Linked DNA regions of Homo sapiens. The protein of the gene in region 2 purifies or fractionates together with the protein of the main gene of each other region. This does not show direct contact. Each region holds a gene or a part of one and is shown on either strand. Other genes may lie near its edges. The genes, in order: INPPL1, MILR1, GLMN and PLAA.

Region 1 (7,092 bases), on a different chromosome or scaffold from region 2:
GCAAACGCCTTTATCCTCACTCATGCCCATGCCCATACACACACACACACACACACACACACACACACTCTCTCTCTCTCTCTCTGCTGGCCCCACACTCCCTCCCAGGCAGGCTCTCCAATAAACTCTTATGTACCCCTCTCTGTGCCCTCACCCATAAGCAGGGGCCCTGCCCACAGCCTCACCGTGGGCAGCTGGCGTGAAGACCACTGCACTTTGAGGAAGTTGATGTTGTCACTGCTCTGGGCATCATTCTCAAAGCTCTTCTTGTATTCTGGGGTGGGGGTGGGAGACACCCAACTGAGCACCACCTCTCAGCTTCCTTTCCCCCTAAGTAGGGGGCTGACTGCACCCTCTTGCCTCCCATCCTCCTTGGCCCACACCCAGCCCCTGCCACGCCTCTGACCCTCCAGGCAGGTAGAGTAGAACTCGATGAAGAACTTGGTGCGGCTGGCTGTCTTCACAATGGCCTCGATGCTCTCAAACTCAATGTAGGCCTGGTCTGAAGTCTTTGAGAGCCCTGAGGAGAAAGGGAGGAGAACAAACAGGAGGACTGAGAGGATCACAGGAGGAATGGGACAGAGAAACAGGGCCCTGGGACAGGAAATCAGGGGTCCAGAGCAAGGAGGCAGGGCCAGGAGGGGCCTCCCCAGTCCCAAGCCACCAACAGGGAATCTCCAGAGGCCAGACCCTGGACCAGAGCAAAGAGACAACCCAAGGATAAAAAACCCATTGAAGAGGGTGCTGGGGACCAGAATGCCTGCAGGATTCCCACACCTACAGGCATACTCAGGGACACACACGTGGCCCTAGACAGACACAGACACATAGATAGGTGTACACTCACGTATGCACACACACTCATGGGCACACAACTCTTGTGATGGCCCAGGCGCACAGACACCCTGACACATCACACCTTGAGAAACACTCCTGCACTCACTGGTACACACACCCACACACACACTTACATAGTCAAACCTATGTACATCCCGAGGCCACCACCTGTGCCCACCTAGATTATGCCACACCCACAAGCATATCTGGAACAGTCACCTTTCTTGGAGATGAACTGGGAGGTAACTCCAACCTCAAATGTCCCAAACACGGGGGAATGGTCGCTGGTGACGATGTCATCAGTGCAACCTGGGGAGAGGGGATAGGAATGGGGACTCAGGGGGAATATTCCCACCCTCGGCTCCCACCTCCCAAGGTTAGGGCAGAGTCCAGATGGTGACCACCCCAGATCTCCCATCACTCTGTCCGGGAGGCTCTGACCATAAGAATTGCAGATGATGTGAGTTTCAGGGTAGGATTTCCACAGAATCCGGTCACACCATGAGGGCACATTGGTCCGGACCTGGGGCAGGGGATGGCAGCATGGTTAGAGCTGACAGCTAGGAGGCTGCTTGGCATGGACCCCACTCCAGAGCTGATGAGTCCCCACACTTCTATTACTAGAGGCCCTAGCACCCACCTCCCTTCTTGGATCCTCAAAATACCCAGGATCACCCAAAGGCCTCAGAGGGGCCATGGAGGCTGGAGTGGAAGCTGCAGAGGCCCATACCCTTGACCCAAATTCTTGATTCATCGCAGGCCTGCGGTCCCCCAAGGCCCATGCCGTTTTCTTGGCTCACCCCAGTTGGCTTCTGCTTGTGCCAGGCATATGTGTCCCGGGAACCCCGCTCATAGCGGTAGGTGGGTGGGAAGGAGATCTCCTCCTCACCTAAGGAAAGCAGGAGACAGGTGGGGTTCAGGGCCCTGACACCCAGGGATACTGCAAGTCTCCTAGCCCTCAGATCACCACCTACCAGGCCCACACTCACTGAATCGAAGGAAGACCTTGTGCTTCTCCCGCTCCAGGTTGAGCTGGTCCACCCTGAGGAGGGGCTCAAACTCTTTCCTGCTGATGTAGTTCAGGATCTCCTGGGGTGGAGGACACAAAGGCTAGAAACATTCCTCCGGAGCCAGAGCCAGGGGTGATAGCCCATGTGGCCCTTAGCCTCCCTACAGCCATGGCAGGGCCCTGCTCGCACCTGGATATCCATGTCCAGGCGGTAGTTGAGGTCCCCAAACCAGAAGAGGTGTGTGAAACGCAGAGAGATGTCAAAGGCATTGAGCTGCCGGTCGCCCAGCGAGAGCAGCCGCAGGATGTCCAAGTAGTTTTGGTTCCTCCTAGGGTGAGGGGTGCGTGGTGGGGAGGGGTAGATCCCCAGGGTCAGGGCCAGAAGTCAGGGATAGGCATAAAGGGAAGAAGTCTCAGGAGTCAGGGATGGGGTAAAGATCCGGGCCCCTGGGGACAAGGTTAGGGTCAGGAACAGAAGGGTCTTGAATTGGGATAAGAGAGCAGGGGGTCTCTGGAGACAGGCCTGCGGGAGGGTCATGGGCTAGGGTATGGGAGCGGGAACAGGCCTCAGGTGAATGGGATGGGTGTAAAGAGACCATGGGAAAGGCGCCCCCTCACCGAGCCGTCTTCTCATTTCCCGAGGTGAGGTGACAATTCACAAAGCCAAATGAGGTGCCATTAAACATGAAGGAGACGCCCACAGCCCCCTTGTTCCCTGTTAAGGCAAGCAAGAGAGGAAGGCCTGGGTCATCCTCAGAGGGCTCCCAACTCTCCCTTCTGCCTCTCAAAGCTGCAGTGAGAGGATCCTCCCGCTGAGCCCACCAGACGCTGTGACATGGGCAGGCCCCTGCACACACCCACACCTTCCCTGGGGGAGGGGGGGGTCCTCATTGGGCACACATGGTCTGTGTGGATGGCCTGAGTCTGTCTGTATGTGTGAGCAGAGCCCCTGGAGATCACAGGGGACCCCAAGGGTGAAGCTGAAAGGCCCTGCAGATTCTGCGCAGAATCTACCTGGGAGAGCACCAGACCGAAAATCAGGAGACCTGGGCACAATGCCTGGCTCCACCACTTACTTGCTGTGTGACCTTGGGCAGGTCACTCAACCACTCTGGGTTTGAGTTTTATCATCTGTGAAAAGGGGGTAATTATCCTGGCCTTGCCTTCCCAGTGGTGCTGGGAGAGATTTAGAATATGAATATGTTTTTCAAAGTTCAAAGTACCCTATATATGGGGAAACTAAGATCACCAAAAATGGGGCAATCCTAGGCTTGAGAGGAAGCAGAAGCCATGGACAGAGAGACGCTGCCACTCTTGGGCACCTGCCAGCCCCACTTACCCAGGGTGTTGGCGATGCCAGTCTTCACACTGGACGTACTGACATGGCTGATACGGTTCTCGTGCTCTGGCTTGACCAGCACTGCCACCTTGATATTCCACAGTGATTGCATGGCAATCTGGGTAGAGAGTGCATGGTCACCACTGCCCTGCTGCACCCACTGCCTGCATTTCCCCCTGCACTATAAATAGACTTTTGTGTCCATCACAGGGTAGGAAGGCTTGCCACCCCTCTTCCTGACGGACTGGAGAGAAATGGTTCCTCTCGTGGCATGAAGGACTCAGGTCAGATCTCCCAAAGGATATGCTCAGGGACCAGAGAAAAAGCCAGTGAAGCTGTGCTCCCAGGGTTGCCCATGAAGTCAAGTAGGCTAGTTTGGAGGTGGTGTGTGAGGACAGGGTCCTGGACAAGATGACCCCCCCTCACCGGGCGGTAATCCAGATCCGTAAGCTCCTTGAGGCCCCCGCGCAGTAGGTCCAGCCACTCGCGGTCGCCCACTGAGTTCTCCTGGGTCCCAAAGACATAGATGTCATGGGGTATGGTCACTGTGACCTCGTCCAGGGTCTTCCCCAGACCCTTCGATGTGAACCAGGATGTCACGTTTTTTGGAGGTGGTACACTTCCTGGAGGTGAAGGGGGTGAGGTGGGTCTGGAGGGGTTAGGCACCTGCTCTGGGGCCATCCCTCTCTCCCGCCCCAGCCCCAGCCCGGGCCTGACCCATGTTCCAGGTGCCTATGAAGACTGAGATCATGTCGGGCTCGTCCTGCTTGGAGTGCTTGTTCTTCATGAGCTGCAACAGCTGGCAGAAGGCCTCCCGCTTCTGGGGGAACAGCAGCCACTCAGGGGCGGGTAGGCATCCAGGAAGCCCCCCGTCCACAGGGATACCCTGCCAGTTGGCTCATGTCCATGAGGAGAGGGTCTGTCTGGTTCTCCACTGCATACCCACTGCTCAAGCATATAACAGTGCTGGCAAATGTTATCCACCCTCAGGCCACCCGTTCTCAACACCCTCTACCCTGTCAGACCTACCCCTGCCAGGAGGGATGGCATGCCTACATCATGTGTTCCCTTTCTTACCCTCCAATGGGAAGCACCCATGTGGGGGACCCCCGCAGTCCCCAGTGGCCTGGCCCAGCCTGCTGCTCACCCGGGCACTGACAAAGATGAAGTCCTTGCGCTGAGTCCGGTCCTTCTCCTTCTCAAACACAACACCCAGCTTGTTCTGGACACGCTGGGACTTAATGAGCTGGCGGACTAGGGCATGGAGGACCGGTCACATGGGCCTGTGCCCCTAGGCCAGGGGCTCCGCCCTGCCCACCCCTCCCAGGTCTGGCCCTGGCTCACTGCGGTCGTGCGTGAAGGTGGTCCAGTCCTCCTGGGAGTCCCGCTGTCTCCGCAGCAGCACCAGCCGCCCACCCTCCACATCCACGCTCAGCGTGAACTTCTGTGACTTCCCAATCTTGGTCAGGTCACCCAGGGTCACATCTAGCTTCACCTGTAGGCCAGGTGGGGAGGCTGCTGACAAGACCTTGGAGTAGGCAGCACCCTGGTCACCTCCAACCACCCTTGGCCCTGTGAGGCCCCACTGCCATGTACCTCAAAGGCCTGCACGGGGATGGTCTTGGCCTTACGTGTGGATGGCTGCGGAGCTGGGGGTGCTGTGGAGCTCATGTCCTGTAGGGCCTTCAGGGCCTGGAGGGAACAAGGGCAGGGCGGGGTCAGGGGACACACTGAAGGCTGGGGCAGGGAGGGACACAATTGACCTTGGGGCCAATGTTAAGTTGTAGACTGAGGGTTGAGATCAGTGCTAGGCCAATGACAGTGGCCAGTGAATCGGGGGTCAAGGGTCAGAGATCATGCCACCTTCTTCTGGATGCCTGACAGGAAGTCCTTTAGCACTGACAGCTTCAGCACCAGGCTCTCTAGTTCCTGCTCCCCTGTCTGTGGCAGGTTCTGGGGGGAGGAAGAACCAGGCTTGTACATGAGTCACCTAAGCAGAGCCTCCCACCCAGCTCCAGAACACGAACGCACCTCCCAGAGGTCTCCCTACAATCTACCTGCTGCTGCAAAAGGCGGGTCACCATGGGCGAGCTCTGCTGGTCAAACACCTTGGACAGGATCTCCAGGCCTGACAGGACCTTGTCCACCTCACTAGGGAAGACATCAGATCAAAAGAACTCCCACCCCGACCTAAGTATAGGGAAGGGGGCGCTGGGTGTAGCCTCAACCTCACCACAAGGATAAAGGCTACCAGTGAGGAAAGTCAAGAGGCAATGGCTAGTTCACTGTTCAGGATCAGAGATCAGGGCACCTGTGCAGCCGGGAAGCAGGTGAGGACAGGTCAGAGGTAAGGGTGTAATACATGGGGCTGGATGTCCCAGATACCTGTGCAGCCTCCGGCATGAGGTAGCGAGGGTACGGGTGAGGTGGGGCAGGTGGCTGGCTCCACCCCTCACAGCTTCCAGGTCCAGCCCATAGCTGCCTTTCAGGTAGTCGTGCGAGACGGTGCTCAGCCCATTGGGAGCACTTTGGGGAGGGGTTAAGAAGTCAGTGGAGGTCCTGCTGACCTGTCCCAGCACCTCTGCCCCATCCCTAGAGGAGATAGTACCTGTGGCAACCAGGGCGGGATGGATCAGGTTATCTGCCTCTGGGCTGAGGTGGGGTGGGGGTCCCTGGTGGGGTCTTAGAAGGCCTCCCCACCTTTGGTAGGGAAATAGTTCTCAGAGGAGAAAGGGTCTCCTGTTCAGTGGATGGGATGGGGGTCTCACCTCTCAGCAGCTGGAGCTGTGGGAGTCTCAGGAGCTGGCAGGGGACTGCTGGGCCCAGTGGGGGCAGAAATGCTGGTGGAGCCAGAGCGCGGGGGCAGCGGGGGCTTCTCATCCTCCCCATCTGTGGGCAGGGGTCAGTGGGCAGCCGTTTGGGCCTCCCACACTCAGTGGAGTAGGAGGCACGATGCAGCTGTAAAGTGACTTCCATGGAAAGAGGGTTAAAGGGCCCCGGCATCATGGCCAAGGGAAAGGGGGTTACAGGAGAGGTGGGGTTGAGAAGGGGGGATGGGAAGAGGCAGGTAGAGCCAAGGGACAGGGGCAGGGAGGGGACCTGCACACTGGGAAGTACCTGAGGCATCCCGGTCATCCGGTGGGTCCGGCTCTCGCTCACCCTCTACAGGAAGAAGCAGGGCGCACACAAGGCCCTGGTTGGGCTGGGCGTACAGGCCGATGAGCTCACCCAGGGTCTGGAAGCGGCGCACAGGCACACCCTGCGAGGTCTGTGGGCCAGCAAGGGTGGGAGGAAGGGTCAGCCAGCAGGTCCCCAAGCCCTAGGCTGGATCAAGGTCAGGGGTCAGGGGCCCAAGCTCCTACCTGCACAGCCAAGAAATCTTCTCCATCAGGCAGAATGCGATACGTGTGCACATGCTTCTGATACCTGATGCCAAGGCAGGGCCAGAATCTGTCACCCCCAGGCTGGGGTCTAAGACCCAAAGCACCCCTTCCTCCTGCCAGCAAGCTCAGCACCCCAACCCCCTCAGCTTGGTTTCCCTAAAACCACCTGCCCAGGCTGCACAGGGTTAATGATGTGGCCGGTCCACTTCCACCCTCCTGGTGTTGCCTATTGGGCAGGAATGACCAGAACACCCCCGTCTCCCCACCAGACCTACACAGACTCCACACCCACCACAGGGCAGGGCCTGAGAAGCAACAGGGAGCTCTTTTGTGGCCTCCACAGCTGTCTAAACAGCCCCTCTGGGCTGTGGTACCAGTCTGGGCTCCCCGCCAGAGTAAGAGTCTTCAGAAGCCTGGTTAGCCCATTTGCACACACGGGCAACGTGCTAACACGTGTGTATGCCTCCTGTGTTTATGCTGCTCTCTGGCTCTGCTGGAGTCGGGTATGTCTAGGGCACTTGTGC
Region 2 (7,949 bases):
CTTGAGGTCAGGAGTTCGAGAACAGCCTGGGCAACAAGTGAGACCTCGTCTCTAATTTTTAAAAAACAAAACAGAACAAAAAAAAAAAAAAACATAGCTGGGACCAATGGATGGCTTGGGTGGAAGACAGATTTAGACTCTTCAAAAATGCTTTTAAAAATGCAGTAAACTCTCCTCCCACTCTTTGATCTGGACAATTAACATTTTCTCAGTCTTATATAAGCTCAACTTTTTTTTTTTTTTGAGACAGAGTCTCACTCTGTTGCCCAGGCTGGAGCGCAGTGGCACCATCTTGACTCACCACAGCCTCCACCTTCCAGGCTCAACTGATCCTCCTGCCTCAGCCTCCTGAGTAGCTGAACTATAGGCACACACCACCATGCCCAGCTAATTTTTGTAGTTTTGGTAGAGACAGGGTTTCACCATGTTGTCCAGGCTCGTCTTGAACTCCTGACCTCAAGTGACTGCCTGCTTCAGCCTCCCAAAGTGCCGGGATTACAGGTGTGAGTCACTGTGCCCCGCCATATAAACTCAACTTTAAGACAAGACCTAAACTACCTTTCCAACCAAATAGCCATCCCTAAGTTTTTTTTATCTAGGAATGCTAGAGCTTTTGTGGCCAGTAAACATGAAAAAGATGCTCAACTTCACAAGTAATGAGGCAACTGCAAATTAAAACAACACTGAGATATCATTTTTCACTCATCAGATTGGTACAAAGTTTAAAAATGATTGGCCAGGCATGGTGGCTCATGCCTGTAATCCCAGCAATTTGGGAGGCTGAGGCAGGCAGATCTCTTGAGTCCAGGAGTTCGAGACCAGCCTGGGCAAATGGTGAAACCCTGTCTCTACTAAAAATACAAAAATTAGCTGGGCATGATGGTGCGTACCTGTATGGCACTACTCAGGAGGCTGAGGTGGGAGGATCAATTGAGCTTGGAAGGTCGAGGCTGCGGAAAGCTAAGATCGCACCACTGCACTCCAGCCTGGGCGACAGAGCAGAGACTCTGTCTCAAAGAAAGAAAGAAAAAAAAAAACCCTAAATAAAATTTAAAAGTAAAAGTGATTATATCCACCACTGGGGAGTGGGTGGGGAAACTCACCCACCGTTGGTGACTGATAGGATACGATCAGCCTTGTTGGGAGGGCAACTTAGCAGGGTCTGTAACAATTTAAATGTGTATGCCCTATGACCTTGCAATTTCAATTCTAGAATTTCATTCTACAGAGATGCTTTCAAGCTCTCATGCATCCACAAAGGACGTTGTGTACAAGGATGTTTATTGTAGCATTGTTTATATTGCCCCCAAAAAGCAGGGCAATAAATAAGGATGGTTAAACGAATCATGGCTGAGTCTTAAAATACCATGCAGCTGTTGAAAAAGAGGAGCTAAGGCTGGTGTGGTAGCTCATGCCTGTAACCCCAGCACTTTGGGAGGCAGAGGCAGGAGGATCACGAGGTCAAGAGTTCAAGAACAGCCTGGCCAACATGATGACACCCCGTCTCTACCAAAAAACAATACAAAAATTACCCAGGCATGGTGGCACGTGCCTGTAATCCCAGCTACTCGGGAGGCTGAGGCAGGAGGATCCCTTGAACCCAGGAGGCGGAGGTTGCAGTGAGCCGAGATTGTGCCACTGTACTCCAGCCTGGGCAACAAGAGTGAAACTCTGTCTCAAAAACAAACAAACAAAAAAAGATAACGAATATAAAGTGACTGTTGATAACGGCTGCTTCTGGATAGGAAGGGGAGAAGAATTGGAGGAGGATTGTAACAGAACTTTTACATTTTATACAGTAACAACCACCACCTTGGCTATCACTTACGGATGGTTTACCATATGCCTGGCACTGTGACGAGGAGCAGGGATTGTCTCATTTGATCTGCACACTAGCCTACCAGGTAGGTGCTTTTATTAGCCCACTTCACAGATGAAATAAATTACAGTGTCTCACGCCTGTAATCCCAGCACTTTGGGAGGCCAAGGTGGGCGGATCACGAGGTCAGGAGATCGAGACCATCCTGGCTAACGATGTGAAACCCCGTCTCTACAAAAAATACAAAACATTAGCCAGGCTTGGTGGCACACGCCTGTAGTCCCAGCTACTCGGGAGGCTGAGGCAGGAGAATCACTTGAACCTGGGAGGCAGAGGTTGCAGTGAGCCGAGATTGCACCACTGACTCCAGCCTGGGCGACAGACTGAGACTCCATCTCAAAAAAAAAAAGAAAGAAAGAAAGAAAGAAAGAAATTAAGGTCAAACTGGGTATGTCATGAGCTCAGGCTGCTGGCTAGTAACTAGTAGAACCAGAGGTTAGACCACTTCCCAATGTATATTTCTAGTGTTGCTTGAATTATTTCACAATAATTCTGTGGGTTTTTTTATTTTGTTTTATTTTTTTAAGAAACGAGGTATCACTATGTTGTTCAGGCTGGTCTCAAACTCCTGAGCTCAAGCAATCCTACCCCATTAGCCTTCCAAAGTGCTGCGATTACAGGCCGGAGGCACCACACCCAGCCTGTGTGTTGGCTTTCTAGTTAAAACACAACAACCATAAAACAACAATAACAAGGAAAGTTAGAAAACTTTCATTGTGAAAACAAATTTCATTATTTTTCTCACTGAGTCTCAGAAAAAAATGCTGCAATCCCCTCCCTAAAATCATTTTATTTTAAATGATAGATAATTGAAAAGACTGTTCTTTGGTTGTTCATAAAAGCTCAGAAACACTTTTGAATGGACGCTTATGTTGCAATCAGACTGTCTCACCACTTCAGTGAAAATGGTTTCAATAAGAAAGAAGTAAATGAAACTTACCATTTGTTTTCATTGCCTCACAATCCAATACAGCTTTTCTACCTGAAACAGAAAAGGAACACGATAAAGCTCACTTTCCACATGACACGTTGGCTTGGAGGTTCGAGCCTCAGAATGATAAGGGGGGCTTACAAGTGACAGAAGAAAATATGCTCCAGAAGAGGAGCCTGTTCAAATGGCTCCACATTCTCCCAGTTGAAGTCCAAGACGGGGTCAGAAGGCATAGTAGAACCACAGTGGTGAGTAACTCGGAGAACTTCCTCTTTTTCTTAGCCAAGTTAAGGAAATCAGAGGGTTTGGATGAGGTTTGCATAATACTGGTTTGTTCGACCAATCTGTCTTCCTCTGTGAGTTCCTGTAAGAAGAGAGATATTTGGTAGATTGCCACTCCCCCGCCCCCCCCACCCCCCCACACCCCCACATCGTCCCATGCTGGCTGGGAAAGAGAAGAGGTAAATCTGACTGTTACATTGTCTATGTAAACCCATCTGATCTCCTTGCTCTGGACTCAGTCTATGCCAAAAGGAGTTTGGTGGAAGTTTGATTTAGTCTTTGGAAGCAAACCGACTGTCTTAAGCAGATACATACAAATATTGTATCAAAAATGCCTGCTTTTTTTTTTTGAGACTGGCCTCACTCTGTCACCCAGGTTGGAGTGGAGTGCTGTGATCATAGCTCATTGCAGCCTCAAACTCCTGGGCTCAAGTGCTCGTCCCACCTCAGGCTCCTGAGTAGCTGGGACCACAGGTGTGCACCATCAGGACTGGCTAATTATTTTTATTTGTAAAGACAGGGGTCTAGTTGCCCAGGCTGGTGTTAAACTCCTGAGCTCAAGTGATCCTCCCGCCTCAGCCTCCCAAAGTGCTGGGATTACAGGTGTGAGCTACTGTGCCTGGCCAAAAATGCCTGCTTTTGTTAAACGTTGATTCCTAGACCCCACTCCAGACTTACTGGGTTTCAAGTCCAGGACGCTGATTTTTTTTTTTTTAAACAAGGGCCCTGAGCAATTCTTACGCACAGTGAAGGCTGAGAAATATCTGTACAAGGTGCTGCTGCCTCAGTGATTTCTGAATCAAGGGAGCCTTGGGGACTTGATATTACGGCAAGCCCTCCAGTGCCAGGAGATCTGAAGTAGGAGTTACCTTAGATCAGCCTTTGAAATAGAACGTGCAGGCTGGGTGCGGTGGCTCATGCCTGTAATCCTAGCACTTCGGAAGGCTGAGGCAGGCGGATCACCCGAGGTCAGGAGTTTGACACCAGCCTGGCCAACACAGCGAAATCCCATCACTAGTAAAAATACAAAAAACTTAACTGGGTGTGGTGATGCGTGCCTATAATTCCAGCTACTTGAGGGGCTGAGGCAGAAGAATCGTTTGAACCCGGGAGGTGGAGGTTGCAGTGAGCCAAGATTGCACCACTGCACTCCAGCCTGGGTGATAGAGCAAAACTCTGTCTCAAAAAAAAAAAAAAAAAGTCAGTTGAAATAGAATGTGCAGAGCCACTTCTTGATGGAGTGGAGATCACCAAAAGGATAGAAAGGTATGACTATAGGGCTAGGTGGGCAAGACAGCTGGTTGACACTTGCAAGAATTGACAGGTCCACCAAGAGAGGAAGCAAGGAGTTGAATGGCTGGGGCAGCCTTGAGCTGGGACATTCATCTCTGTACCTTAGGTCCCAAGATGTAACCAAATCCTTCCTTATTGACTCAGCGTCACCTAGCTAGCATCCTCTAGCTAGGAGGTTTGATACTGAATCTTGCTCTGTCTCCCAAGCTAGAGCACAGTGGCACCATCTTGGCTCACTGCAATCTCCACTTACCAGAATCAAACTATCTTTCCACCTCAGCCTCTCTAGTAGCTGGGACCACAGGCACAAACCACCATACACTACTAGGTTTTTAACTTTTTTATAGAGATGAAGTCTCACTATATTGCCCAGGCTGGTTTTGAACTCCTGGGCTCAAGCGATTCTCCTGCGTGTGGCCTCCAAAAGTGCTAGGATTACAAGCATGAACCACCATGCCCCACCCTTACTACAACAACTTTACAGCACTTTATAAAAGTTTGGATGGGTGAACTGTCAGATACATGTGCAAAATTCCATCAACTTTTTCTTTTCTTCACGTCTGCAATGTTTTTCATCAGCATCCTGTCACTTTTTGGCTACCACTGCTGGCCAGCTGGAAAAGAACAGACAACCATAGAATCATTCCCCGCACCCACATTTTCTTTCTCTCTCTTTTTTTTTTTTTTTTTTTGAGATGGAGTCTCGCTCTGTTGCCCAGGCTGGAGTGCAGTGGCGCTATCTCGGCTCACTGAAACCTCCACCTCCTGGGTTCAAGGGATTCTCCTGCCTCACCCTCCCAAGTAACTGGGATTACAGGTACGTGCCACCACACCTGGCTAAATTGTGTATTTTTAGTAGAGACGGGATTTCACCCCATTGGCCAGGCTGGTCTCGAACTCCTGACCTCAGGTGATCTGCCTGCCTCGGCCTCCCGAAGTTGTGGGATTACAGGCGTGAGCCACTACCCCCGGCTCCACATTTTCATATAGACCCATGGAAATGGTTTCTCTATCAGATCCAGTACAAATTGCAGACAAGTCTGGCAATGGAAAAAATATATATTGGCAACTTCTAGTATTTTCAAACTGGAGTAATAGCTGCAGTGGCGCCATCTCGGGCCACTGCAACCTCCACAGTTCCCAGGTTCCCAAGTAGCTGGGATTACAGGCACTTGCCACCACGCCCAGCTAATTTTTTTAATTTTTACTAGAGATGAGGTTTCGCCATGTTGACCAGGCTGGTCTCAAATTCCTGATCTCAAGTGATCTACCCACCTCAGTCTCCCAAAGTGCTGAGACTACAGGCATGAGCCACTGCACCTGGCCTCACACATTCTATTTCAAAGGCTGATCTGAGTTTACTCCTACCTCAGTTCTCCTGGCACTGGAGGGCTTGCCATAATAACAAGACTTCAAGGCTGCCTTGATTCAGAACTGCACTTTTGAAAGACACTGTCTCAAAAAAAAAAAAAAAAGAATTTTTAATGGTGATGTAGAAGAACATTTCATGATGTGGTAAGAGAATCACAATATACTTAAGAAAAGAGAAAAGGTATTATTAACAGTTGTAATAACATAAATCATTTTTCTAAATAAGAAAGTGCATAATTTGTATACATAGAAAAACTATCTGGAGGCCGGGCACAGTGGCTCATGCCTGTATTCTCAGCACTTTGGGAGACTCATAATGAGACTTTGTCTCTAAATTAAAAAAGGAAAAGAAAGGAAAGGAAGAAAGAAAGAAAGAGAAAAACTATCTGGAAGGATATTTTCTCAAAATGTTAACAATAGCTATATCTGGAGAGTAGAATGTTATTTTTATTTTTTTTATTATTATACTTTAAGTTCTAGGGTACATGTGCACAATGTGCAGGTTTGATACATAGGTATACATGTGCCATGTTGGTTTGCTGCACCCATAAACTCATCATTTACATTAGGTATTTCTCCTAATGCTATCCCTTCCCTAACCCCCAACCCCCCGACATGCCCCAGTGTGTGATGTTCCCCTCCCTGTATCCAAGTGATCTCATTGTTCAATTCCCACCTATGAGTGAGAACATGTGGTGTTTGGTTTTCTGTCCTTGTGATAGTTTGCTGAGAATGATGGTTTCCAGCTTCATCCATGTCCCTGCAAAGGACATGAACTCATCCTTCTTTATGGCTGCATAGTATTCCATGGTGTATATGTGCCACATTTTCTTAATCCAGTCTATCATTGATGGACATTTGGGTGGGTTCCAAGTCTTTGCTATTGTGAATAGTGCCACAATAAACATACGTGTGCATATGTCTTTACAGTAACATGATTTATAATCCTTTGGGTATATACCCAGTAATGGGATTGCTGAGTCAAATGATATTTCTAGTTCTAGATCCTTGAAGAATCACCACACTGACTTCCACAATGGTTGAACTAATTTACACTCCCACCAACAGTGTAAAAGCGTTCCTATTTCTCCACATTCTCTCCAGCTTTTATTTTCTTATTCTAGCTCCTCTTTCTTTTTTTTCGAGATGAAATCTTGCTCTTGTCCCCCAAGCTAGAGTGCAACGGCATGATCTTGGCTCACTATAACCTCTGCCTCCTGGGTTCAAGCAATTCTCCTGCCTCAGCCTCCCAAGTAGCTGGGACTACAGGTGCCTGCCACCACGCCTGGCTAATTTTTGTATTTTTAGTAGAGACGGGGTTTCACCATGTTGGCCAGGCTGTTCTCGAACTCCTCAGGTGATCCGCCCTCCTTGGCCTCCCAAAGTGCTGGGATCACAGGCATGAGCCACTGCGCCTGGCCGCTCCTCTTTCAATTATTTCTTTCTGCATTAATATTCCTATTATGGAGAAGGAGGAAAGATGGGATAATGGCAGACCTTGACAACACCTTTCCTTGGTCCTCCATAAGGAGAAAGAGCCTCCTCTAAGCCTGGTAGTATGGTGCACTGAGTGAGGACAGGAGGTTGGGACATTTCCCAGAGGCTTGGGTTCAAAACCACTGAGGTATTGAGAAAGATAAAGTAACTTTTACATGAAAGATAAAAACAAGATCCTTTCCTCAAAAGACCTACCTGGAGCCCATACTTGCCCTCAGGCAACCCATAGGCTTGCAACAACAGTGTCTATTTTTTTTTTTTTGAGACAGAGTTTCACTTTTGTCGCCCAGGCTGGAGTGGAATAGTGTAATCTCGGCCTACTGCAACCTCCGCCTCCCCGCCTCCCCAGTTCAAGCGATTTTCCTGCCTCAGCCTCCCAAGTAACTGGGATTACAGGCATGCACTACCATGCCTGGCTTATTTCTTATTTTTAATTGAGATGGGGTTTCACCATGTTGGCCAGGCTGGTTTCGAACTCCTGACCTCAGGTGATCCCCCTGCCTCGGCCTCCCAAAGTGCTAGGATTACAGGCGTGAGCCACCACGCCTGGCCAGTGTCTATTTCCTTAAGAAAAAAATATGTGTTTTTTTCCTTAAGAAAAAAAATTATAAAAATCGAAACAGCATACAAAATCCAAAGAAAATATCCAATAGGCATGAATATAATTCATTTCCGCTTGTCCCTGCCCCCAGGAAT
Region 3 (7,092 bases), on a different chromosome or scaffold from region 2:
TATCTGCATATATTTTAATCTGTAGGAGCTGCTGGAGAATAGTTTATTGAGAATAGAAGACAATAGTCTACTTTACCAGTACTTAGAAATCAAGAGTTTTCTTACTGTACCTCAGGTAAATAAAATATGTATTCTAATATTGAAAATAGCCCTTTGCCTGTTCTGAACTTAAAGTAAGGTCTTTTCTGATTCCTTTCCCACTCTTTTCTCTGCAACCTTTGAAAACTCTGGTGTAATGCTGTCCAGTAGAACTTTGACAATATGAAAGCCACTAGCCAAACTGAACACTTGAAATGTGACTAAGGAACTATTTTTTTTTTTTTTGAGGTGTAGTCTTGCTGTGTCGCCCAGGTTGGAGTGCAGTGGTGCTATCTCAGCTCACTGCAAGCTCCACCTCCTGGGTTCATTCCATTCTCCTGCCTCAGCCTCCCGAGTAGCTGGGACTACAGGCGCCCGCCACCACACCCAGCTAATATTTTTGTATTTATAGTAGAGACGGAGTTTCACTGTGTTAGCCAGGATGGTCTCGATCTCCTGACTTCGTGATCAGCCTGCCTCAGCCCCCCAAAGTGCTGGGATTACAGGTGTGAGCCACCACACCCAGCCGGAACTAAGTTTCAAATTTAAATTTTAATTTATTTAAACACGAATAGCTATTAGAGGCCACCATTATTGATAGCACAGCATCCAGTAGAAAAGCATAACTTTCTTCTTTTAACACTTTATTTCTGTAGGGATCTTGGAAAATGAAGCTTCTTTATGTTTCTCATAACTCAAGTTCTCAGGACTCCATCTAAGGCATCCACTGACTCATTACCAGAAAGACTAATACACATTGTGTTTTTCCCTCCTATGGTTTATTTTGCCCAATCCTCTTTGTTAGTTATGATATCCAAGGAAATCCTTAGATTTCAGTGTGGGAACTGGTTTTCCTAATATTTAAATAGAAAAACATGGTTTTTGTTAACATATTGTTTGATTGTTTTTAATTAATAAATTATATTTCTGTAGATTTGATTTCATTTTCTTGCCACTGTAGACATAATTGAAAATTATCGTTTGCTTTTAAAAGTACACTGTGTGACACTCTACTCAATATCACTTAAAAAATCAATTGTAGTTAGCTTTCTGGAATGGAAGGCTTAGGGAAAAATTAATTTACTTCACTTTTAAATCTCCTACCCTCACTTCTCTGAATTTTTAGTATCCTATTGATGTATTATAGTTGTTTGTTTGCAGTCAGTATAATCTGTTTACATCTGAATTTTACATTTTTTTATTTCCAGGGCTTAGTGAAAGTAATGACACTTTGCCCCATTGAGACACTGGTATGTAAATATTTGGTGACTAAAGAATAATGAGTTACAGTGAGAAAATTTGACAAATAATTTAATTTTCTTTTTAAAAATTTTAATTTGTGAAATTTTTATTTAGGAGGTACAAGTGTGGATGTATTACATGCATAAAATGGATAGTGATGAAGTCTGGGTAAGCTTTATTCATTTTATATAATAATATTGTTTGTTCCATTTTAGAGGAAAAAGAGTTTAGCTATGCTTCAGCTGTATATTAACAAGTTGGATTCACAAGGCAAATATACATTATTTAGGTATGTATCAAGCATGGCTAATTGCTAAGTGTGTGGTTGATTAAAAGTCATGTTAATGCCATGTAATTGTTTTAGGGCATAGTATGTCGGTATGTTTTACATGTAATTCAACTCTGGTTGGAACCCATATTATAAATTCTCAGTGATGGCTAGAGAAAGGGTTAATCAAATATTTCAGACATACTATATATATGTCTATATTTTGTATGACTAATAGTATATATTGCAGTTCAATCAATTGGAATACTCTAAATTTGAAATAGACTTAAAAATAATTAAACTGAGATTGATGATGCTCCTGCTGGAACTTTATGTATGTCACTAATCTCCATTACTCACAGTTCAAATTGATGGCTCTGGAATTACAACTTTGATAGGCTATGCACTATGTTAATAGTAAGAGCTTACTAATACTGCTCTTTGAGGTGGATAAGATTCTAGCAACTCTCTAAGTTAAAGATTGGTAAACTTTCTAATTAATTTTCTGTGAAGAGCCAAATAGTAAATATAGGTTTTATGGGCTATACAGTCTCTGTTGCAAGTGCTCAACTTTGACTTTGTATTGGGGATGGGTGTGTTCCAGTAAAACTTTATTGATAAAATTGGGCATCAGGCTGGATTTGCTAAAATGTCTTACCTGGGATTGGCCAATATTAGTACTGTTCTTTTTTGGCGGGTGCAGCAGTGTGATCATGGCTCACTGCAGCCTTCACCCTTGGCCCCCCAGCTTCAGGTGATCCTCCCGCTTCAGCCTCCCAGGTAGCTGGGACTACAGGTGCATGCCATCATGCCCAGCTAATTTTTTTGTGGAGATGGGGTTTTGCCATGTTGCCCAGGCTGGTCTCAAACTCCTGGGCTCAAGCGATTCACCCACCTCAGCCTCCCAAAGTGTTGAGATGACACGCATGAGCCATCATGCCCAGCCAACACTCTTGATTCTATCTTTTCTTGTTTTCTATTGATAGTAAGAGCAAGTTTATGAAATCTCAATTCTTAGGTATTATACCGGCTTTCCTGTTCTGTTCTATGTGTATCTCTACCAATAAATCCCCTTTTTTTCTTAAGCTAGTCATATCTAGTTTTTTTTTTTTTTTTGCAATTAAGCTACTCTAGCACTGGACTACTTTCACAGGAAATAATTTGGGGATTTTTTAGACCATTATGTTAGTGCCCTTTCTTGCCATGTTAAATTATTGTAACTATGTTCATAAAAATATTCAAATTTTGGTTTGATAGAAATGGCTTGTTGGAAGATCCAGTTATAAATAAGTATTTACCGGCCGGGTGTGGTGGCTCATGCCTGTAATCCCAGCACTTTGGGAGGCTGAGGCAGGCGGATCACGAGGTCAGGAGTTTGAGACAAGCCTGGCCAACATGGTGAAACCCTGTTTCTACTACAAATACAAAAAATTAGCCAGGCACGGTGGCGGGCGCCTGTAATCACAGCTACTCAGGAGGCTGAGGCAGGAGAATCGCTTGAACCCGGGAGGCGGAGGTTGCAGTGAGCCAAAATTGTGCCACTGCACTCCAGCCTGGGCGACAGGGCGAGACTCTGTCTAAAAAAGTAAAATAAAATAAATAAGAATTTACCATTTAGTGAGAGCAATAACTATTACAGGTGACTTTGTAATTGGTTGATGACCTTGCTAATTACCATTACTGTGGGGTTTTTATTCCTAGAAGTAACACATGGCCTCTTTGAATTTGTAAAACTTTTATCACCATTTAATTCTAATGCTGTCCAGGATAATTTCACATCTATTGTAATTTTGCTTTCAAGGTGCTTATTGAATACAAGTAATCACTCAGGTGTGGAGGCTTTTATTATTCAAAATATCAAAAATCAAATTGACATGTCATTAAAGGTAAGAACATAGCCAAAGTGTCAATTACCAATTTATTTCGTAGGGTATATTTATTCATATGTAGAATACATTAATGTGAGTTATTGCTCTATCTCTAGTATTACTATTACTTAAATATTATTAAGGCATATTTTTTCCCCTATTTCTACTATGTTTTAAAAACTCTGAATTTGGAAATTTAGTTAACTATAAGTTTAAATTGTATTCTTTGAGGTTTTGGTTTTTGTTTTTGTTTTTTTTGAGACAGGGTTTCACGCCTGTCACCCAGCTTGGAGTGCAGTGGCATGATCTCAGCTCACTGCAGCCTCCACCTCCTGGGCTCAAGCAGTTCTCCCAACTCAGCCTCCCGAGTAATTGGGACTACAGGTGTCCACCAGTGCGCCTGGCTGAATTTTGATTTTGTAGAGATGGAGTTTCACTGTGTTGCCCAGGCTCGTCTTGAACTCCTGATCTCAAGTGATCCACCCACCTTGGCCTCCCAAAATGCTGGGATTACAGGTGTGAGTCATCACTCTGGGCCTCTTTGAGCTGATATTGTGGCTTATTTTTGCTTTGTTATATGCTTCTCAAAAATGAATGGAAACTTAAGTCTCTTCTGTTTCTGAGTGCTCAGTAATTCTAAATGGAAAACAGAGTGACCAGTGTTCTCAAACTGGCAGGGTTCGTTCCTGGTGTCTGGAAAGTGAATGAAAGTACGGAAATTAAAGTTAAAAACTGTATTTTAAATGTGCAATTCTTCATTTTTGTAGTGTCAAGGTATTAGAAAAACACATGAATTACATGAATTATAAAGCTTTCTCAATTTTTCGTTTGCTTTTCAGAGAACACGTAACAACAAATGGTTTACAGGACCACAGTTGATTTCCCTTCTTGATTTGGTACTTTTTCTCCCAGAGGGTGCAGAAACAGATTTACTGCAAAACTCAGATAGGTGAGGTGACCATTACCAAAGTTCACATAGTAAATTCAGAATAAAATGTGAAACATCTGCTTAGGGAACCTAAAGTAATAAAATGTCTTTTCCTGTGATTTTATGATCTATGGCTAATTCATTAAGTTACATAAAGATTTTTCATATTTAAGTGATTTGATAATGTGTAGAAACAAAATTAAAACCTCCTCTTTCTAGATGAATGACCAGCACTATGATTTGATAGCTTTTATGTACCCAGCATTCCATAGAAATTTGCAATGACAGCACTTGTGACTTAAAACTAAAAATCTGTGTATGTAATTTATGTGTTTAGGTTTTGTTGTTTTATTGTTTTCCAGGTCATTTTTTTTTTCATATAGAACATATAATTTCAGTTTCAGTATACTGGAATGGATATTGAGAAATGGTTTAAAGCATTTAAAAAGTAATCTTAAAATTCAGAAAGCAAGAGATGATGCTCTCAAATATTAAAGATAACAAGGCTTTCTTTAAACAAGGATGATAATTTTCACAATTGTATGATTTAAACAAATGGAAAACAGTGATAAGTTATTACTACTCAAAAAGATATTAATGGAAATAGTTTCTATTGGCAAACCTAATTATAAAAATATGACCAAAGTTTTAGCTTATTGAGATTGCTGTTGACTATATAAAACCATACTGTAAGTAACATATATTTTTAATTAACAGGATTATGGCTTCATTAAATTTATTGAGGTATTTGGTTATCAAAGATAATGAAAATGACAATCAAGTAAGTGAAGTATTTGAAAAGAAACTGTGAGTATATTCAAAAGGCATAAGGAATGTTTCAGATATTCAGTACCTAAAGCCAATATTTAATATCTTACCCAGATATAAAGGCCGGGAAGAGTGCCAACAATTATTCTGAAACCTGAAGTTAATTCCCAGGAGCATTTACCACCCCACATCCAGCTTTCCTTTCCCTTTCCATTTCCTATTGTACGTCTGCTTTCTTGCTGAAAGCACTTAGTCCTGTTGGGTGGATAAGTTGCAGGTCCTAAGTCAACTAACCTTGTGGAGCTCAACGTACATATGGTGTCTTGTTCAGTTTCCTCCACCTATAGCTCATGAGCTGTATAAAATCATCTGATATTTTAATATTGCCTCATCAGACATGACAAATTGAAGCATTTTCAGCACTAAAACAGAATTTGTTAACAGCACCTTTTAGATATGTTTAGGAAGTTGGATTTTTTAAAAATAGCACATCATTAGAAGTATTCAATAAATAGAGAAGTATTCAATAAATAGAAAACTATTTGAGGGAGATTTGTCATACAGTAAAATTATATTTGCTTTTTATCTTCTCTTTCTACCCTGTTCTGATCATTGCTTTCCCTATATGTGTCACCTCTATTAGCTAGAACTACCTGAATCATGTGTTGTTAATTGGTTTTTTTTTAGTAATTCATTTTTATATAAAGATGCCAAAGAAAATTTTTTTTAAATTAGGTAAATCGTGATTTGGGATGAAGGTTTATGAGAAAAGTAGCAGTCTCTTTCCTTCCTGACAGATCTATAGTAGATTCAGTGATTTGAACCCCCGTTCATCCCTCTTCAGCTGAAAATAGCTATTTGCCATCATTGACTAGTGCTTACTCTGTATCAGGTGCTATTTTTTTTTAACATTTTGTTGTGAAACTTTTCAAATGTACAGCAAAGTTGAAAGAATTTTATAGTGATCATTGGTTTACCCACCACCTAGAGTCTATGATTCTACTGTACTAACTTCATCATGTATCTATCACTCCACCCTCTGTCTATCACTCCGTCAGTCTATTTTTTGATGTATTTCAAAGTAAACTGCAGACGTCAGCATACTTTCTCCGAAATATTTCAGCATGTATTTCATTACATTGATTAAATATTTGTCTGTAGTTTTTCTTTGAAGTAAAATTTACATAATGAAATGTTCAAATTTTAAGTGTATATTCACTGAATTTTAACTAATACATAGATCTATATTACTCAAACCCATATCAATATAGAACATTTCCAGCATCACAAGAGGTTCCTCATACCCCTTCCTAGTTAATTCTGACCTCGTTGTGCTACTCACCCCTGCCAGGGACAACCACTATTCTGCCCAAGTGCTGTATATCATTCATTCTTCAGAGAGCGTCTCGTTCTCTTGCCCAGGCTGGATTACAGTGGTACAATCATGGCTCACTGCAGCCTCGACCTCCTGGGCTCAAGAGATCCTCCCACCTCGGCCTCCCAAAGTGCTGGGGTAACTTCCAGGCATGGGCCACCATGGAAAACCAAGAAAAGTACTCTTTATTTTTCACTTTTCATAGATAATGTAGGTGAAAAAAGTTCATTAACTTGCACAAGGGCAAACATCTGGAAAGTGGTAGAAATAGCTATGACCCCAGGCAGTGGCCAGAACTTTCTAAATCACAAACTAAATCCTGATTCCTGAAGGAGCTTGTGATAAAAATTGAAAAGCTACAATATAAAATTCAGCAGCAGTAGAGGCCCTGAGACTTCAGGAAGGTGGCCTTAGGGTAGGGTATGAGTTTTTATTTTTTTAGTAATCAAGAAAGGCTGTACCTACTTGAGAGATTATCTGACTTGCCTGACAAAAAGAAAAGGAATCTTGTTGATTAGGATTGATAGGTGTGTTAGATATGGAACACAGAGTAATACAAAGGCAG
Region 4 (7,092 bases), on a different chromosome or scaffold from region 2:
GTCCATTATCAAGGTATCGGCATCTTGAGAGGGCCTCTTTGCTGCTGTATCATCCTATGGTGGAAGGGTAGGAGAGCACACAGCAAGAGGCGCAGAGGGGCCAAACTTGCTTTTGTAACAAAGCCACTCTCTAACCCAGTCCCGCAATAATGACATTAATCTATTCATGGCGGCAGAACCCTCTTGATCTAATCACCTCTTAAAGGTTCTACTTCTCAACATGGTTGCATTGAAGGTTAAGTTTCCAGCACATGAACTTTGGGGGACACGTTCAGGCCATAATAGAATATTTGTGTGATTTTGTTTTTTTGACACAGGGTCTTGCTTTGTTGCCCAGGCTGGAATGCAATGGCATGATCACTGCCTTATTGCAGCCTCGACCTTCTGGGCTCAAACAATCCTCCCACCTCAGCCTCTTAAGTAACTGGGACTACAGGCAAGAACCACTATGCCCAGCTAATTTTTATTTATTTATTTTTGTAGAGATGAGCGTCTTACTAGATTGCCCAGGCTGGTCTCAAACTCCTGGGCTTAAGCAATCCTCCTGCCTCAGCCTTCCAAAGTGTTGGGATTAAAGGTGTGAACCACCACTCCCAGCTCATAACAGCATATTAATAGAGTTAATGAAATGCTATAAATGTTTGGAGTGAAGTCGTAAATGAAATTTGCTTTCCCATGTAGCCAAGTGGTAAATGAAATTTACCACTGTAAATTTGAATCAGTACCACTGATTCAACTTCAAATTCTTTGTTCATTACTGAATTGCCTCTTACTGAATCTGACCTGGTCTGTCTACCTCTGATGCAAATGAATTTACCACTGCTTTCCATGTATGTTGTTGCTAAGGTTCTAGATCAGGGTAGTAAATGTAGGGATGGACTGGGAATAATGGGGAAAGTTAGTTCTAGGGAGGCAGAAATAGTTCTGTTTTAGAGTAGACTAAACCAGGTACCTAGTCTTTCACAAAAGCCCTTTGAAAACCCAGAAAGTCTTTGGACCTTCAGAGTGGAGACATATCTGTTGGTTGGGCATTGAACTGAGCCAGCAACATGCCATTGTTTCAGACTACTTCAGGTCTCTATAAGCTAGCTTCAAGCTAAATTACATTTCCCAAGTCTGTCGTTGACTTCTGGGTGGGGAGAGATGAGTGAGATAGGACTTCAGCAGCTTTGCCTTTATATTGCCTTGCCTTTTGAAAAACGACCCATGCTTGAAGACACATCTTCAGATATAGGATCTGATTATATTAATCTATATTAATAGATTTTTTAGTTGTAATCTATTAGTTCCTACTGTAGAATATGAGAATTTAGCTCTCTTTCTGCCTTCCACTCACCCCATCACGTATGCATCTTTTTCTGTGCCTTTTTTTTTTTTTTTTTTTTTGAGACGAGTCTCGCTCTGTCGCCCAGGCCGGAGTGCAGTGGCGCTGTCTCGGCTCACTGCAAGCCCCGCCTCCCGGGTTGACGCCATTCTGCCTTAGCCTCCCGAGTAGCTGGGACTTTAGGCGCCCGCCACGGCGCCCGGCTAATTTTTTGTATTTTTAGTAGAGACGGGGTTTCACAGTGTTAGCCAGGATGGTCTGGATCTCCTGACCTCGTGATCCGCCCGCCTTGGCCTCCCAAAGTGCTCGGATTACAGGCGTGAGCCACCATGCCCGGCCTCCGTGCTCTGACTCTTATAATTTAAGCTGTGGAATAATCTATGATAACTCTTCCTCAACAATTTTATGATCTGCATGTGGCTAATAATTGTTTTATTTTGGTTTTCATTTGCTTAGCTTACTATGTATTTATCACTGAGTCAATTTCAAAGTCTTTGTTCGTTACCGAATCACCTCTTAAGGCCTTTAGATACATTGGATATTTTACAATTTCCTCTCCTGACAATGCAAACTTTCTGACCTGGTCTGTCTACCTCTGATGCACAACTAATCCTAGGATTTCCCTTCATTGTTGTTTCCAAAACAACTTTTTTGAACCTCATATGTTGGATTTTTATTGTCAGTATCCTTTAGCTTTCTCTTGGTTGGTTTTCTTCCTTGTTGCCTTATTGGAACATAACCTCTAAGAGCTTCCTGAAATGTAGTGCATCAGTAATAAATGTTTTAAGACCTTGCAAGTCTGAAAGTTATTTTATTTTGCCTTGTTACTGGCATGATAATTTGAATGGTTGTAGCATTCTAATTTTAAAATAATTTTCTTTCAGAATTGTGATGGAATCCATTGTATTTCATCTTCTAGTGTTACTGTTGAGAAGTCTGAAGCCATTCTGATTTTTGAACTATTTTTTTTTTCTTTCTGGAAGGCAGTCTACTTCTATCCATTGTTCCAGGCCATTGGCGGGCCCTTTTAATATGAAAACTCATGTCCATAAATTCTGGGAAATGTTCTTCAATTAATTCTTTGGCTGCTTTCTCTTTATTTTTTCTGTCTTCTTTTTTCTGGAACTGTTTTTATTCAGATATTGAACTTGCTTTCTAAATTTCTCTCTTTTTTTTTTTTCTTGGCTGTAATCTCTAGCAGGTTGCCTTGACTTTGTGAAATTATGTCCTTGTTTCATGGTTGCAATATCTTATACCTCTAAGGATGATAATGACAATTTAAAAAAATGTTTTAAGGTATTTCCTCCTTAATGGTCTGTTTTCCTCCATATTGGTTTTTTTCTCATCTCTATTTGTTTTGATCACTGTATTTCATGCTGGAGGCTTTCCCCAGATGTCTGGTAATCTTTATTGTGTGCTCAGTGTTATGGGTAGAGAATTAAGAAGCTCCTGGGAGATCTGTGCTCCTGGATGGGGCTTGCTGGTTGTGAGTTTTACTGTTGAGTTATCTGGTAGGGCCATTATATTGGGCTGATCTGCTGCCTAGAGGATGAGGGTATGGTTTCCAGGGTTTTCTTTTGGTGGTCTTGGGCTCCAGTAGGAATATACACATTCTTCACACTCCCAAGACTCAACTATCCTTATGTCCCCCCATTCAAAGATTTTCTTTTTAAAGAAAAAGCTTCAGACTTTTGCTGAGTACTAGCAGGACAGTTGTCTGGCTGGGTTGTCTAGCTGCACATCCCTCCCCCACCCCCCGTGTTTTGTTTTTGTTTTTTTTTTTGTCTTAATACCTTAAGTATTTTTTAAAATCAGTTTAAGAAATACTTAATGCTAACCATTTAAAACATTGTGCTAGGGACTTGGGAAGACACAAAGAACCTAATCTGGATTCTGCCATTAAGAACTTCACAGACCACTACCGAAGATGCACACAAACATCTATGCTTTGAAGTGTTAAGGGTTACACATAGTGGGTAGATTTAGTGGTTTACATAATACAGATTTTAAAACATGTTCTATCTTTTGACTTCCTCTGGGCTTATTGATAAAATGGTTTCAAAAGCATTAAAAAACAAAAACAACACCCCCTAAAATGAAGTGAACAAGTTGAAATTGGTTACTACCAGGTATCTTTCTTTGAAGACTTTTTCATAATGCTTCAGATTCTGAAGACTTTCGATTAGTCTTTCTTATCTTAGTTCCTGCCTCTTTGTCCTCACCTCTGGAGGTATATAGTGCTGTTAATTCTTTTCCTCCAGTTTTTTTATTGTGATACAATACACAAAACATAAAATTTGCCATCTTAACCATTTTAAACTGTACAGTTCAATGGTATTAAGTATATTCATAATGTGTAACCATCACCACCATCCATCTTTTAACTCTTTTTATCTCTTTACACTGAAACTGTACCTGTTTAAGCAATAACTCATTGTCTCCACCCCCAGACCCTGGCAACCACGATTCTACTTTATGTCTGTATGATTTTGACAGCTCTAAGTTCCACATATAAGTGGGATCATACAGTATTTGTGTTTTTATAACTGGCTTATTTCGTTTAGCACAATGTCCTCAAGGTTCTTCCATGTTGTAGCATATGTCAGAATTTCCCTCCTTTTTAAGGCTGAATAAAATTTCATGTTTATACCACATTTTGTTTATTCATCCATTGATGGACACTTAGGTTGATGCCACATTTGAGCTATTGTGAATAATGCTACTATGAATATGGTTATACACATATCTCTTTAAGATCCTGCTTTCATTTCCATTGGGAATATATCCAGAAATGGAATTGCTGAGTCATATGGTAATTTTATTTTTAATTTTTCTAGGAATTTCCATACTTTTTTCTGTAGCAGGTGTCTTTGCTTTCACGTAGTATATTCTGTATGTCTGTTAGTTCTAGTTGATTTATTTTGTTAAGTCCTCTTTTTCCTTACATGTTTTCTGTCTGATTATTCTATCCATTATTGAGATTGAGATATTGAAGTCTTCAACTATTATTGTAGAACTATCTATATATCACTTCAATTATGTCAGTTTTTGTTTTATATATTATGTGCATAAATGTTTATAATTGTTATATCTTCTTCCTGTACCGAACTTTTTATTAATATATAATATCCTTCTTTGTCTCTTGTTTTCTTTTTTTGATTTAAGGTCAATTTTGTCTAATGTTAATATAGCTGCTCCTGCTTTCTTTTGTTTGCTGTTTTCATGGAATATCCTGTTTCATCCTATCACTTTCAGTATATTTGTGTCTTTGGATCTAAAGTGAGTCTCATAAACAGCACCGAGCTGGATTATGTTTTTTAAAATGGTTTCTGCCAATCTTTGTCTTTTGATTGGAGAATTTAATTCATTTACATTGAAAGTAATCACCGATGCCATTTTGCTGTCTGTTTTCTATATGCCTTAAAGTTTGTTTGGTTTTTTTTTTTTTTTTTTTTGGTCTCTCATCTCCTGCATTACTGTCTTCTTTTGTGTTTAGTTGATTTATTTATTTATATGTTTGTTTATTTATTTATTTTATTTTTATCTTTTTTTGAGACGGAGTTTCAGTCTGTGGCCCAGGCTGGAGTGCAGTGGCGCAATCTCGGCTCACTGCAAGCTCCACCTCTTGGGTTCACGCCATTCTCCTGCCTCAGCCTCCCGAGTAGCTGGGACTACAGGCCCCTGCCACCACACCTGGCTAATTTTTTGTATTTTTAGTAGAGATGGGGTTTCACCGTGTTAGCCAGGATAGTCCCGATCTCCTGACCTTGTGATCCGCCGGCCTCAGCCTCCCAAAGTGCTGGGATTACAGGCGTGAGCCACGGCGCCCGGCCTAGTTTATTTATGTTTAAATTCCTTCCCCATTTCCTTAGTGTATATTCTATTTTTGTGTGTGTTTACCATGAGGATTATATTTAATATCCTAAAGTTGTAATCCTCTAATTTGAATGTATACATTTAACTTCAATAACAAACAAAAATTCTTCTTTATAGCTCCATCTTCACCCCTTTTGGTTGTTGGTGTCACAGAATTACATCTGTATGTACTCTGTGTCCTAAAAACATAAAGTAATAATTACTTTAAATGCCTTAATTTCTGAAATTATGTAGGAAAAATTTGGAGTTACAAACCAAAGTTACAATATCATTAGCTTTTAGGCTAATTTTTTTAATGTAATGTTTCTTAAATGACATAGAAATCAAAAGGTAGAGTTATAAACCACTATCGTATTTACCATTATTGAGATCTTTATTTCTTCATATTGCTTCAAGTCTGTCTAGTGTGTTTTCATTTCACTGTGCGAGAAGGCTCCTTTAAGCATTTCTTACAGGGAGGTCTCATGGCAGCAAACTCCCTCACCATTTTTTTTTTTTTTTTTTTTTTTAAGAAATGGTGTCTTACTCTTTTGGCCCAGGCGGGCATACAGTGGTACAGTCATAGCTCACTTAAGTCTCAAACTCCCAGGCTCAAGGGATCCTCTCGCCTTAGCCTCCCAAGTAACTGGGACTACAGGTGTGTACTATCACACCTAGCTAATGCTCCAAAAAAATTTTTCAAGATGGGGTTTCGCTATGTTGACCAGGCTGGAATGCAGTGGCTGTTCTTGAGTGTGGTCGCAGCACTCTGCAGCCTCCAACTTCTGGGCTCAAGCGGTTCTCCTATCTCAGTCTCCTGAGGTGCTGGGACTACAGGTGTGTGCTACTGCACTCAGTTTGACCTCCAAAGTTTTTGATGAGAAATCTACTAATTATATTATTGAGGATCCCTTGTATGTGATAAGTTACTTCTTTCTTACTGCTTTCAAGATTCTTTGTATCTCCCTTTCTTAAGTTTGAATATAATGTGACTTGGTGTGGGTCTCTTTGAATTTATCTTCTTGGAGTTTGTTGAGTTTCTTTGGATGTTTATATTCATGTCTTTCATCAAATTTGGGATGTTTCCAGCCATTATTTCTTCAGATATTCTCTCTGCTCCCTTTCCCCTCTCTCTAGGACTGCCACAATCTGTATGCTGGCCTACCTCATGTTGTTCCACAAGTCCCTTAGGCTCTGTTCATTTTTTTTTTTTTCAGTCTTTTTTTGTGTTCTTCAAACCTGATAATTTCTACTGTCCTATGTTCAAGTTTGCTAATTATTTCTTCTTGCTTGAATCTGTCTTCAAGTTGTCTAGTGAATAATTTCATTTCAGTTATCATACCTTTCATCTTCATAATTTCTTTTTGGTTTCTTTATAGGTTTTCTGCCTCTTTACTGATACTTCAGTTTTCTTCATGCATAATTTTCTTGACTTTCTCCATCTTCCTTTAGTTCTTTGAGCATGTTTAAAACAGTTGTTTTAAAGTCTCTGTCTAGTAGATCTGCTGCCAGGTCTTTTTCAGGGACAGTGTCTATTGACTTAATTTTTCCTTTGAATGGGCCATACTTTTCTGTTTATTTGTATGCGTGTGATTTTTTTGTTGTGGTTGAAAGTGAACATTTAATCTAATAATATAACTCTAGAAATCATATTCTTCCCCTTTTCCAGGGTTTGCTGTTTTTTGTTATGTTTTTGTGTATTATCTTTTTGTTGTTGTTGTTGTTGAAGGGTGTCTTTGTTTCAAATATCGGGCTAAGATGTAAACTTAGTCTTCTCAGTCTTTTCTGAGCCTGTGCTTTTCCCTGGGCATGCACTTTCACTTTCTAATTTTTTCCATATATGTAGTTCCTTTTGAATATCTTAGTCTTTATTATCTTGCTCCCAGAAGAGGAAAATGAAGGTGTTAGGGGAA

Evidence for each region.
Region 1: the proteins of MILR1 (region 2) and INPPL1 purify together in Homo sapiens (co-immunoprecipitation; 3 studies listed by BioGRID and IntAct, with this or other methods). This does not show direct contact.
Region 3: the proteins of MILR1 (region 2) and GLMN purify together in Homo sapiens (co-immunoprecipitation; 2 studies listed by BioGRID and IntAct, with this or other methods). This does not show direct contact.
Region 4: the proteins of MILR1 (region 2) and PLAA purify together in Homo sapiens (co-immunoprecipitation; 3 studies listed by BioGRID and IntAct, with this or other methods). This does not show direct contact.

The regions. Positions count from the first base shown.
Region 1 is NC_000011.10:72,227,709-72,234,800, reverse strand, and holds part of INPPL1 (phosphatidylinositol 3,4,5-trisphosphate 5-phosphatase 2), read right to left. Parts: intron 6,612-7,092; coding exon 6,548-6,611; intron 6,454-6,547; coding exon 6,303-6,453; intron 6,075-6,302; coding exon 5,954-6,074; intron 5,794-5,953; coding exon of another isoform or gene 5,712-5,793; coding exon 5,571-5,711; intron 5,337-5,570; coding exon 5,243-5,336; intron 5,139-5,242; coding exon 5,049-5,138; intron 4,878-5,048; coding exon 4,782-4,877; intron 4,681-4,781; coding exon 4,530-4,680; intron 4,440-4,529; coding exon 4,333-4,439; intron 4,006-4,332; coding exon 3,903-4,005; intron 3,809-3,902; coding exon 3,612-3,808; intron 3,304-3,611; coding exon 3,186-3,303; intron 2,562-3,185; coding exon 2,465-2,561; intron 2,176-2,464; coding exon 2,037-2,175; intron 1,927-2,036; coding exon 1,827-1,926; intron 1,727-1,826; coding exon 1,638-1,726; intron 1,361-1,637; coding exon 1,279-1,360; intron 1,147-1,278; coding exon 1,057-1,146; intron 521-1,056; coding exon 407-520; intron 275-406; and 2 more. UniProt on the Homo sapiens protein: Phosphatidylinositol (PtdIns) phosphatase that specifically hydrolyzes the 5-phosphate of phosphatidylinositol-3,4,5-trisphosphate (PtdIns(3,4,5)P3) to produce PtdIns(3,4)P2, thereby negatively regulating the PI3K (phosphoinositide 3-kinase) pathways.
Region 2 is NC_000017.11:64,444,226-64,452,174, reverse strand, and holds the start of MILR1 (allergin-1 isoform Allergin-1L precursor), read right to left. Parts: upstream 3,061-7,949; 5' UTR 3,007-3,060; coding exon 2,952-3,006; intron 2,862-2,951; coding exon 2,820-2,861; intron 1-2,819. UniProt on the Homo sapiens protein: Immunoglobulin-like receptor which plays an inhibitory role in degranulation of mast cells. Negatively regulates IgE-mediated mast cell activation and suppresses the type I immediate hypersensitivity reaction.
Region 3 is NC_000001.11:92,260,936-92,268,027, reverse strand, and holds part of GLMN (glomulin), read left to right. Parts: intron 1-25; coding exon 26-115; intron 116-1,286; coding exon 1,287-1,328; intron 1,329-1,434; coding exon of another isoform or gene 1,435-1,488; intron 1,489-1,535; coding exon 1,536-1,609; intron 1,610-3,389; coding exon 3,390-3,474; intron 3,475-4,295; coding exon 4,296-4,405; intron 4,406-5,101; coding exon 5,102-5,165; intron 5,166-7,092.
Region 4 is NC_000009.12:26,937,172-26,944,263, reverse strand, and holds part of PLAA (phospholipase A-2-activating protein), read left to right. Parts: intron 1-7,092. UniProt on the Homo sapiens protein: Plays a role in protein ubiquitination, sorting and degradation through its association with VCP. Involved in ubiquitin-mediated membrane proteins trafficking to late endosomes in an ESCRT-dependent manner, and hence plays a role in synaptic vesicle recycling.